Linked DNA regions of Homo sapiens. The protein of the gene in region 1 purifies or fractionates together with the protein of each later gene. This does not show direct contact. Each region holds a gene or a part of one and is shown in the gene's direction. Other genes may lie near its edges.

Region 1 (3,653 bases):
ATATGTGTGAGTTTATTTCTGGGCTTTGTATTCTAGTACTTTTGTTTTGTGTGTCTATTTTATGCCAGTACCATACTGTTTTGATTACCATACCTTTGTAATATACTTTGAAATCAGGAAGTGTGATACTCCAGCTTTGATATTCTTGCTCAAAATTGCTGTGGCTCTTTTGGGTCTTTATAGTTCTATATGAATTTTAGGATTATTTCTTATATTTTTGTAAAAAGTGTCACTGTGATTTTGATAGGGATTGCATTGACTGTAGATTGCTTTGGATAATATGGACATTTTCATAGTATTAATTTTCTAAGTTCTTGAACATAGGATATCTTTCCATTTATTTGTTTTGTCTGCTTTAATTTCCTTCATTAGTATTTCATAGTTTGCAGCATGCAAGTCACTTACCTATTTGGGTAAGCTTATTTCATGTTAAAGTCACATGGGGAGTGACTGCTTAATGGGTACGGCATTTCTTTTGGAGTTGATAAAAATGTTTTTGAACTAGACAGAGGTGGTGGTGTATAACTTTGTGAATGTACTAAATGCCACTGAATTGTACTTTAAAATGGCTAATTTATTTGTTTTATTTTGAGGTGAAGTCTTGCTCTGTCTCCCTGACTGGGGTGCAGTGACATGATCACTGCCCACTGCAGTCTCCACCTCCCAGGTGCAAGTGATCCTCCCACCTCAGCCTTCTGAGTAGCTGGGACTACAGGCCCATTCCAGTGTGCCCAGCTAATTTTTTAAATTTTTTAGTAGAGGTGGAGTCTCACTTCGTTGTCCAGACTGTTTCAAACTCCTGAGCTCAAGCAGTCCTCCCACCTCAGCCTCTCAAGGTGCTGAAATTACAGGTGTGAGCCACTGCACCCAGCCTCAAATAGCTAATTTTATGTTATGTAATTTCATCTCAGTTTAAAAAAAATAAAATTAGGGATATATAAGTTGCTTGCATTAACTCACATAAATCAGTGAATATGTACACCTCTTTTCTGCCATTTTGTGTGAAAATAAGAAATTTTCCTGTGTCCACTTGGTGAAGTGTGTTTTTATTTCAGGGACTGTTTACATTCAAGGATGTGGCCATAGAATTCTCTCAAGAGGAGTGGGAGTGCCTGGACCCTGCCCAGAGGGCCTTGTACAGGGACGTGATGTTGGAGAACTACAGGAACCTGCTTTCTCTCGATGAGGATAACATCCCTCCAGAAGATGGTAACCACCCTTGTACATCTTTACATTTTTCCTTGTGAGTCTCTTGGGAGGCCCTGATGTGCTTGTCTGAATCCGATCCCTGTTCTAAAAGGGGAGATTGAAACTTTTTGATTGAGAGTGGAAAGGCTTCATAATGTAGCATATAGACTTTAAACTTCCCCTTTCTTCAGAAGTTCTGCGCATAATCAGGTTTGACGAGTGGTGGTTCCAGAATATCAGTACTTACAAAACCTTATGGAAAACGTTTTAAAGTGTCTGGTATCATGGTTTTATCCCTGTGCCTTTGATTCAGTAGTTTTTTCAGAGTCTGCATATTTAAAATAATCCCTAAGCATTCAGAAGAAGGCAGTCCGTTGACTAATTTATGAAATTGTTTTGGGAAATAGTTTTGCAGACCCATGTGTAATGTCCTCTCTTCGTAGCTGAACAAAGGGCTGGGAATGTATCCAGGAAAAGCACAGCATACCATGTTCCTTTTTTTCTTTATAAGTTGAAATCTTTCCTGAGCTGAATATTGTGTTCATTTTGGAGCACAGGAAAGAGTCCTAGACTATGGAAAGTGAAGTGAAAATAGGGAAAAAATCAGGTAGGTCGGAATGTGAGCACAAATAAGCGCTCAGATGGCCACAGAGTAAGCTACTCCATTGAGTATTGTTTGGGAAACTCTGCAAATGGGAAAGATCAGTGGGAAAACAAAAGTTTATTTCTTATGAGCTCTCAAAGCAAGGTCCACACCCGCTCCTACTGTCCCCCAACATACTGTTATTCAAATGTGTAAAAGGTTGAACTCCCACTCTCCCGTGATGCCCCAACTCATACAGACACAAAAGCAAAGGTGCTATCATGACCTACAATACTGTTTGGCCCCTCTGACCATTTTGGTCTCTTGGTTTTGAGAGGGACCGAAATGGCTGTTTTTAAGGACTCTCTTTTAGTGTATATAATTTCATCTGATGTGTGGTTTTCAGTCTATACAGATCAGAGCTGGGGCCTTTGTAGCCCTGGCTCCAGAACCTATTCAATTTCTATTCCTATTTCTTATACCTGCAAGAACTTTTCAGGAAAATGGGAAAACAGTGGCTCCCCCAAAATGTATCTGGGGTTCCCTGAAATTTGAAAGACTGTCGGTCTCTCTACTTGTTCAAGCCCCTTGGCCATTCCTTCAGTTCTGCTTTTGCCACATGTGTCTAAAGGGGAATGGGCAGGCTTTTGAGATTGTTACTCAGCATTAATGTAAAGACTTGACAGAGAGATCCTCTTTTTGATTGCCATTCCAAAATGGGAATATATCTCATTCTTTTAGGTTCTCACCTTGCAGCCTGTGGACAGAGCACACTGCCTCTTCCTTAGAATCCTACAAAATCCGACCCTTTTATTTTACTCCCGTACCTTTTATTTCTCTCCCTTTTCTAGCTTTCTACTCTATCCGGGAACTTAGGGAGACCTTAGTCTTCCTGATTCCATATTCTTCTAAGATTTGCCTCTGAAAGTTGCTTTTGAAATACACATTCCGGATGGGCGTGGTGCCTCACGCCTATAATCCCAGCACTTTGGGAGGCCGAGGTGGGCAGATCACCTGAGGTCGGGAGTTCGAGACCAGCCTGACTAACATGGAAAAACCCCGTCTCTACTAAAAATACAAAAATTAGCCGGGTGTGTTGGCGCATGCCTGTAATACCAGCTGCTCGGGAGGCTGAGGCAGGAGAGTTGCTTGAACCCGAGAGGCAGAGGTTGTGGTGAGCCGAGATCACGCCATTGCACTCCAGCCTGGGCAACAAGAGCAAAACTCCATCTCGAAAAAAAAAAAAAGAAAAAGAAAAGTACACATTCCTAGAGTCTGAAATTTCCTCTCTTTCTGCTGTGATAACCCACCAATAGGCGATGGACAACTTTTGGTGGACTCTCCCATGGAAGAGGTTTCCTTGGTGACAGAACATTCTTGAAAGAGAACATTAATTAATCTGTCACAGTATCATTCTGCTACATAGAGGTGCCTCTTGAAGCCACTGAGTAGAGTAGCCTGCATGTCCCAGTATGCTGAGAGAGAATCAGGACAGCCGGAGGGATAAGTGCTTCTGACCTTCTGGTTTCTGTGGAGTTTCCAGTGTCTCCCAAGGGCAGTGTGACAACGCTGGTTAGATATATGCTGATCATCCTCTTGGAGCCAGCAGTACAAGGTGTAGGAGTTTCTCCTGGGAAGAGCATTCTCCAAGTTCTCAACCTCATATCTGCGAACATGTTGACCAAACTGTTGCTCATACCACATTATTCATCCCATACGTGCAGTTGTACATTTTTCTTCAGTATGATTTTTATGCCTTTATTGAGGGAGCTTACAAAGTTGAATTAGGCATACATTTTTAAAGTTCAGTATAATTTGGTTAAGCCACTGACACTTTCATTTTGCCAATGTCATTGGTATAAATGAACTTGTATGTATTTAA
Region 2 (3,753 bases), on another chromosome or scaffold:
CACACCTGCTTTCCTTGATTGTAAAGGACTCACCCATACAATTTCAAGTATGTTTCATTCTCTTTGGTCAAATACATATAACTGAATTTTTATAAGTTAAATGCTTATATGGTACAACTCCTTTGTATCATTTATATGTTGATGACTTCCAAATTAATTTCTCTAGCCCTAATTTTTGTTCCTGAGCTTCAGATTCAGAACCAACTACCTACTTGGATGTCTCCACTTAAAGTCAACTAGGTAGGCATCTTAACACGTCCAAAACATAACAATTGATTCCATCCTCCGTATCTCACTTGTACCAGAAAGCCCTTCTTCTCTCAGGCTTTCTTAGCTCAGTAAATGGCATGCCATCTACTCAGCCAAAAAACTAGGAGTGATCTTTGATTCCTCCCTTTCTCTCACCTCTGCATAAAATCCGTCAGGTACGTTTAGCTCTACCTCCAAAATACATGCCAGATCTAATCCATTTATCTCTCTCAGCACAGATACCAACCTAGACAAGCCATGATCATCATTCTACTTTGACTAACCTGTTTCCACTCTTAGCTTTTCTATGGTCCATTCTCCAAATAGCCAGTGTAATCCTTTATGAAACATCCACGCATTCATTCACCAAAGTGCACAGAAACTGGGGATACATAACGAAGCAAAGTATATCCCTGTGCTCAGGGACTTACATTCCAGAAGAGGGAGAGGCAATAAGCAGTAAATAATTTCGTACAGATGTAATAAATATAAAAAATTAAATGTGATAAACTAAATCATGTTCTTCTCTCCATAAAAATTTTCAAATAGTTTCCCAAGGTGGAAGTCCAAATTCCTTACTATGACCTTGTTACAAGATTCTGTGAGATCTGGCTTCTGTTTGTCCCTCCAACCTTATCTGTACTACTCTATCAGACTGCAACTTGGCTCTAGTCGCACCGGCATTCTTTCTATTCCCTCAAGGTTCCAATTTTTTTCCCTTCAGCCACGTGTTTCCCCTATCTGGAATGCTGTTCCCAGATCTTGGACAGGTTGCTTCCTCTTAGCTCAAGTTTTCACTTCAACAGAGTGAATTTCACTAAGTCAGCTCCCTCATCATTTTCTCTATCAATTACACCTTTTTGTTTTATAGCACTTATTACTTTACAGAGATTTTGCTTATTTATTTGTTAACAATATCTGTTGTCCCTACTAAAATGTAAGCTTCGTAAGAAGAGGAATCTTAAGATGTTGTTTACTATAGTATCCCTCAAAGTCTAGAACAGTGCCCAACATAAGAGGATACTGATAAATATTTTTTAAAAGAATTTACACACGCCTGTAGTCCCAGCAGTTTGGGAGACCGAGATGGGAGGATCACTTGAGCCCAGGAGTTCGAGGCTGCGATTGCGCCACTGCGCTCCAGCCTGGGCGACAGAGAGAGACCTTGTTTCAAAAAAAAAAAAAAAAGATAAATAATGACGGAGTACACGATAATAAAATAGCCTCGTTTCTCACCCAGCCAGGCTCCGCCTACAGGAGCCAATTATGCTCACGCCCTCTTCCGACGCTGCCCGGGGCCTGGGAAGTAGTCTGCGCAGGCGCCGTAGAACTGTGGCGCTTTCTGGGTAAAGATGGACGTCCACGATCTCTTTCGCCGGCTCGGCGCGGGGGCCAAATTCGACACGAGACGCTTCTCGGCAGACGCAGCTCGATTCCAGGTACTGTGCCCAAGGGACCGAGGGCCGAGTAACTGAGAAGGAGCAGGAGCCCGGGAATGAACCCGCTGCTGGGGGAGGCCGGCGCACTTGGACACCCGTGGCCTGGCTCTCGCCACCCTTGGGGTATTTTGCTTCCTTTTGTGTTCGGCTTGCCTGCACGGCTGCTCGGTTCAAGCCTTTTGAATAAGCTCTTTAACTATCCTGTTGTAGACCTAGTTGGGCCTGGCACGGAAACCCTCTTTCCTCCCTCTTATTCAAAGCAAAGTTGGAATCCTCCTTTCAAAAGGAACTTTTTCTCCGAACCTAGAGGAAAGGAATTTCGAAAACAGAAACAACCAAAGATGGAGAAAACAGATTCTCTTACTATAGTCTCCCCAAGTTTGGCTTGGCATGCGTATAGTTGTACTGGGCGTGATTCTTTTTATTGCTTCAACCCCATGGCTTAAGTAACCAATGAGAAGAGCGATTAAGAAATGGGGGCTCTTACCTAGAGAAGTAGTGAGTGATACATCGGGGGAGGTCAATTGGGGCCCAATTCTGGAAAATCTTGAATGTCTACTTTGTTGTTTGGATGTGTATATGCGTGTGACATGTGTTTCTTCTTTCTCTAACTGGTGAGTATGAACTCTGGAGCCAGATTATCTGGGTCTAAATGCTAAGTCTGCCAGTTACTCATTTTTAGACCTACCTCAAGTTACTTAATTTCCGAATGCCTTGGTTTTCTCATTCGTAATACTGCTATTTACCTTATAGAGTTGTAAATGTGAAGCAATTTAATATGTATAAACATGCTTAGAAATCTGCTTGACATTTAGTAAGCATATATGTGTTCATTGCTAATATTAATTTGTTACTATTATGAGGTCAGAGAAGGTCTCTTCAGATTCCATTTGTCCAGACACCTGTTAGCTCGACAGATACTTGGTGAAAGGGTAGAAAAGATGAGGAGTCATTGAACAGTCTTGCTTGAATGAAAGCAATGGTATTCTGTCAGTAGGTTTCATTTTACATTTTTTGGGTTTTAGATAGGAAAAAGGAAATATGACTTTGATTCTTCGGAGGTGCTTCAGGGACTGGACTTTTTTGGAAACAAGAAGTCTGTCCCAGGTGTGTGTGGAGCATCACAAACACATCAGAAGCCCCAAAATGGAGAGAAAAAAGAAGAGAGCCTAACTGAAAGGAAGAGGGAGCAGAGCAAGAAAAAAAGGAAGACGATGACTTCAGGTTAGTGTTTGATTTCTGTCATGTTTTTTCTCTTTAATTTTTTTCAGTTATAAAAATAATACAGGCTTATGGCTACAAGTCAGACAATAAGGTCATTTGTCAGCTGATGGCACTCAGGTTGTTTCCAGGTATTTGTCATTAGAAATATTGTTACAGCAAAGGTAATTTTAAGTAAAGATATTTATACATAAATCCTTTTGTACAGGTACTGTTATTTCTGCAGAATACCATCCGAAAAGTAGCATCATATGGTGAAAGGGTATGTACCCTTTCTCTGAAAAATACTACAAAGTGACTTCCCAAGTCCTTGTCAGTGCTGAATATTATTGGTGTTAATTTTTTTGCCAAGCTAATGAATGAAACTTTTTTTTTTTGAGACAGAGTCTCACTCTGTCTCCAGGCTGGAGTGCAGTGGCGCGATCTCGGCTCACTGCAACCTCTGCCTCCTGGGTTCAAGCAATTCTCCTGCCTCAGCCTCCTGAGTAGCTGGGACTACAGGTGCGTGTCACCACGCCTAGCTAATTTTTGTATTTTTAGTAGAGATGGGGTTTCACCATGTTGGCCACGATGGCCTGGATCACTTGACCTCGTGATCCGCCCGCTTTGGCCCCCCAAAGTGCCGGGATTACAGGCCTGAACCACCGCGCCCTGCCTGAAACAATTTTATATTTTACTGATAACTGGTGAGGTCGAGCATTTTTTTTTTTTTGAGATGAGTCTCGCTTTGTTGCCCAGTCTGTGGTGCAGTGGTGCAATCTCGGCTCACTGCAAGCTCCGCCTCCTGGGTTCACGTCATTCTCCTGCCTCAGCCTCCCAAGTACCTGGGACTACAGGTGCCTGC
Region 3 (3,653 bases), on another chromosome or scaffold:
CAGTTATACTAAAACTGCTCTACCAGTTGTCTAAATCTACCCTAAAGATATTTGTGTATTTCAGGTATTCTGTCATATCCATTTTATTGAAAACACCTCTTGGAGCCTTCTGATCCCCTCTTATGTAGACAGACTCCTGTTAGTCCTATGAGCCTGATGCAAAGCTGTTCAGGGATCTCCCTTTACCATTTTTCTGGAAGTCTGTGCTTTGTGCTTTTGTTGTAGTTCCTATTTCCTCTTTCTGGATTCAATTTTTTTATTTTGGTGATGCACCTCTTCCAGTAGTTTTGTGAGAAAAAGGAGCTGTGAGATACACTTTTTAAACCTTGTATGTTTACCTTGTATTTAGTCTATTCTCATACTGGAATCATGGTCTGGTTGGATGTAAAATTCAAGGTTGGAAATCATTTTCCTTCAGAAATTCTGAAGGTGTTGCTCCATTTTTTTCTAACTTCAGGGTTGTTGAGAAGTTTATTTTGATGTGTGTGTGTAGGAGTGTATGTTATCTGATTTCTTCTGGAAGTTTGTGGAATCTTGCTCTTCAGCTTTGGTGTTTTGATATTTCATGATGATATGTATTGGTTTTGGTGTATTTTGTGTATGGAGCTCAAGACACTCAGTAGATCCTGTTAGTCTGAAAAATGTTATTGTTCAATTCCGGGAAAATTTTTCAAATTATTTCATTGTTAATTCCTCTCTTTATTTTGTTAGCTCTTGATTTCTGGAACCTTTATTATTTGTTACATAACAGGGACTGGTCCCTCTGTTTTCTTTATTTTGCCTACTTCCTACCTCTTTGTAATTTTTCTTTAACGTGCTTAAATTTTCTCATATTTATCCTCCAACTTTTCAGTCAAGTTTTGTACTTCTGATTCTTAAATGTTCTTTTTGTTGTTGTTTTGAGAATGGTCCTTTCTGTAGTGTTCTATTCATGTTTCATGGATGTAGTATCTTCTTTTGTCTTTATTAAGATACTAATGGCGTTTTAAACAGTTTTTGTCTCCTTTCATAGTTTCTGACTTCTCAATGTTGCATTATTTTAAAAAAAATGTTTAAAAAGGTTTTGGCCTCCATCTTTCCTAGATGCTCTCCTGAAATGTCTGACCCTTGATTATTGCTCATGTTTAAGGGTAGGGAACTAAAATTATGAAACTTCTAAGTGTGGGGATTGGGTTTTACCAGCTATGAGCGTCAGTGTATAGCAATCTGGCTGTACTGTTGTTTGGCAGAACCCTTCCTATCAGAATTTAGGTTATTTTCCATAACTTATTAGATTGCTAGCATATTATGGAAGCCTGTAAGGGAAACTGACTGGGGTTTCTCAGATTTCAGTATATACAAATTCACTTAATCTTACAAATTTCAATGTACTTTACAGCCAGTCTCAACTGTGCCTCATGTTCTTTAGCCTAGAAACCTTGCTTTACTATCTCCAGAGAATAAGCTACGAGTTTTGGCTCAGGACTAGGGAAGGGCAGTTGCCCAACAAATGGAGTAGGGGAAAGAGGGATCTAGAAATCTAACTGCTACTTTTAAAGAGCTTTCAGCCCTTCTAAGTGTTAAGCATCTGTCTTCATTCCCACTTTAGAATCATCTGGGACCACCAAGTCTTAAGACTTTTGAGGTGTTAATGGTGTTAGTTTTTGCCAACACTGCCAGCCTAGTGTTTTATTAATTACTTTTGGGTCTCTTATGTCAAATACTTGGTAATCATCTCTTGTTTGGTTTCCAAAATTTGCTGCTGGTTTTTCCTCTCTCGTTCTTCCTTGCCTTTTGGACTTTTCAAAAAATGTCCCGCTGTTATAGCTTCAGTAGGGTTTTGAGAAGTGAATAAATTTAGATCCATGTATTTATTTCATCATCTTTTCTTGATCTATGTTTTTAATACATTTTCAAAATCAGTTATTTGGTATATACGTGTGGCTTTGAGAAATGAAAAGAATAGAATAAACATTGTAGGAAAATAAAACTTTTTTGCCTATAGAATCAGGCTTCAAACTAAGGCAGGTAATATTTAGAGGAGAAAAAGTGACTTTAGCCTTTGCTTAATAAATTGCTTCCTATTGGAAAACCACTTTTTATCTGAAAATCCTTCACAGCTGAATATACTATTCTTTTGTCATTTTTAGCAACCGCTTGGGTGTTAAAAGATCTTTATTTATTAATGTGTAATAAGTGTTAAAATCCTTCATTTGTTTCATTTCAAGGATGAATAGAGCTGTAAATTACTATAATCTGTCTTTAAAGCTTTAAAGATCACCTAAATATTGAAACAAAGCTTTATTAAAATTTTAGTTATTTAAAAAAATTTTATAACTGAATATGTGATAAATAGTTCATAACCCACCAAGTAATTTTTAAAAGTTATTAAGTACTTAACCTAATACTCAGATACTTTGTTGTGTCCTATGGGAATTAGAAAGGGTCTCTAAGATAAGGATGACTATATAATTTTATTGTTCAAATTGGGCATACTTTTGAAAATGAAAGTGTGCTATTAATACTAGATCAGAACTACGAGCAACACCTGGACATTTACCTTTTTAAAGATTCTCACAGTTCAGTGATAAATGACAAATTCAGTTTGTGGGTTGTTTTTGTACTTACTGAATTATTTAGCTCTCTTTCTTTTTAGCTCTTTTCATTTTGTGTTTCTCCTTTCTCCTGATACAAGGGGGGGATGTATCAGAATAGGGAAATGAAACTCTTTTCATTTAATGGACTATTAGGAGCATTGTGTGGGAAGCTTTTAAATTTTCATACTTTCCTTATGATACATTTGCTTGGTTTAAGTCTTTTAAATTGTGTTTCTTTTTTGATGAGCTGTATGTGGTACTCTGTGTTGATATCATTTCTTAGGAATAGCTTTAATGCTAAAATGGTGACCTAAGGGAAGCACATTGATAAAGGAATTAGAGTCCGTTTGAGGCTGTATTTTGAAACTCGCACAGATCCTGGTTTGTGATAGGAGGTTTTTAGTTCAGGTTTCTTTAGCACTGGAATATATTTGGTTTTATATATTTAGAAATATTTAATGTTTAAAAATCCATGATGGTCTTGCTTTAATATGGGCATTAATGGTAAAGGAAGCTCATTTTACTTACGTCACTCCTAGGTTACTTTTTATGGAAAAGAGATTTGATGAAAACATTTCTTTTAATAAGGTATAATATTAGTCTGAATTTTTTAGAGGCTTTTCCCCCTGCTAGAATTCAGAGAACTTTGATAAATATAAAATTTGACATATGTTAAATTATATATATGTGTATATATATCATGTCACCATTATGAGTACTGTTCAATACATTTTTGTTGAGCAAATTATAGCTCAGAATAAAGAAGTGATATATTCTAAATTGTATTGAAATAAAAGCACATGACAAAATAGCTAAGTATTTTTATTTATTTTTTCCCCCTGTGATAGAACAAGTAAGAAGTTTGCGACAGAGCACTATTGCCAAGCGTTCAAATGCAGCACCATTAAGTAACACAAAAAAAGCATCTGGGAAGACTGTATCTACTGCTAAAGCAGGAGTGAAACAACCAGAAAGGAGTCAGGTTAAAGAAGAAGTATGTATGTCACTGAAACCTGAGTACCATAAGGAGAATAGAAGGTGCAGCCGAAATAGCGGACAAATTGAAGTGGTACCTGA

What was found.
Region 2: the proteins of ZNF677 (region 1) and DDX52 purify together in Homo sapiens (affinity purification with mass spectrometry; one large-scale study listed by BioGRID and IntAct). This does not show direct contact.
Region 3: the proteins of ZNF677 (region 1) and PHF3 purify together in Homo sapiens (affinity purification with mass spectrometry; one large-scale study listed by BioGRID and IntAct). This does not show direct contact.

Annotation. Positions count from the first base shown.
Region 1 is NC_000019.10:53,241,300-53,244,952, reverse strand, and holds part of ZNF677 (zinc finger protein 677), read left to right. Parts: intron 1-1,055; coding exon 1,056-1,209; coding exon of another isoform or gene 1,210-1,243; intron 1,244-2,512; coding exon of another isoform or gene 2,513-2,559; exon of another isoform or gene 2,560-2,622; coding exon of another isoform or gene 2,623-2,696; exon of another isoform or gene 2,697-3,087; coding exon of another isoform or gene 3,088-3,169; exon of another isoform or gene 3,170-3,653. UniProt on the Homo sapiens protein: May be involved in transcriptional regulation.
Region 2 is NC_000017.11:37,641,269-37,645,021, reverse strand, and holds the start of DDX52 (probable ATP-dependent RNA helicase DDX52), read left to right. Parts: upstream 1-1,575; 5' UTR 1,576-1,601; coding exon 1,602-1,688; exon of another isoform or gene 1,689-2,084; intron 2,085-2,713; coding exon 2,714-2,912; intron 2,913-3,753.
Region 3 is NC_000006.12:63,680,705-63,684,357, forward strand, and holds part of PHF3 (PHD finger protein 3), read left to right. Parts: intron 1-3,424; coding exon 3,425-3,653.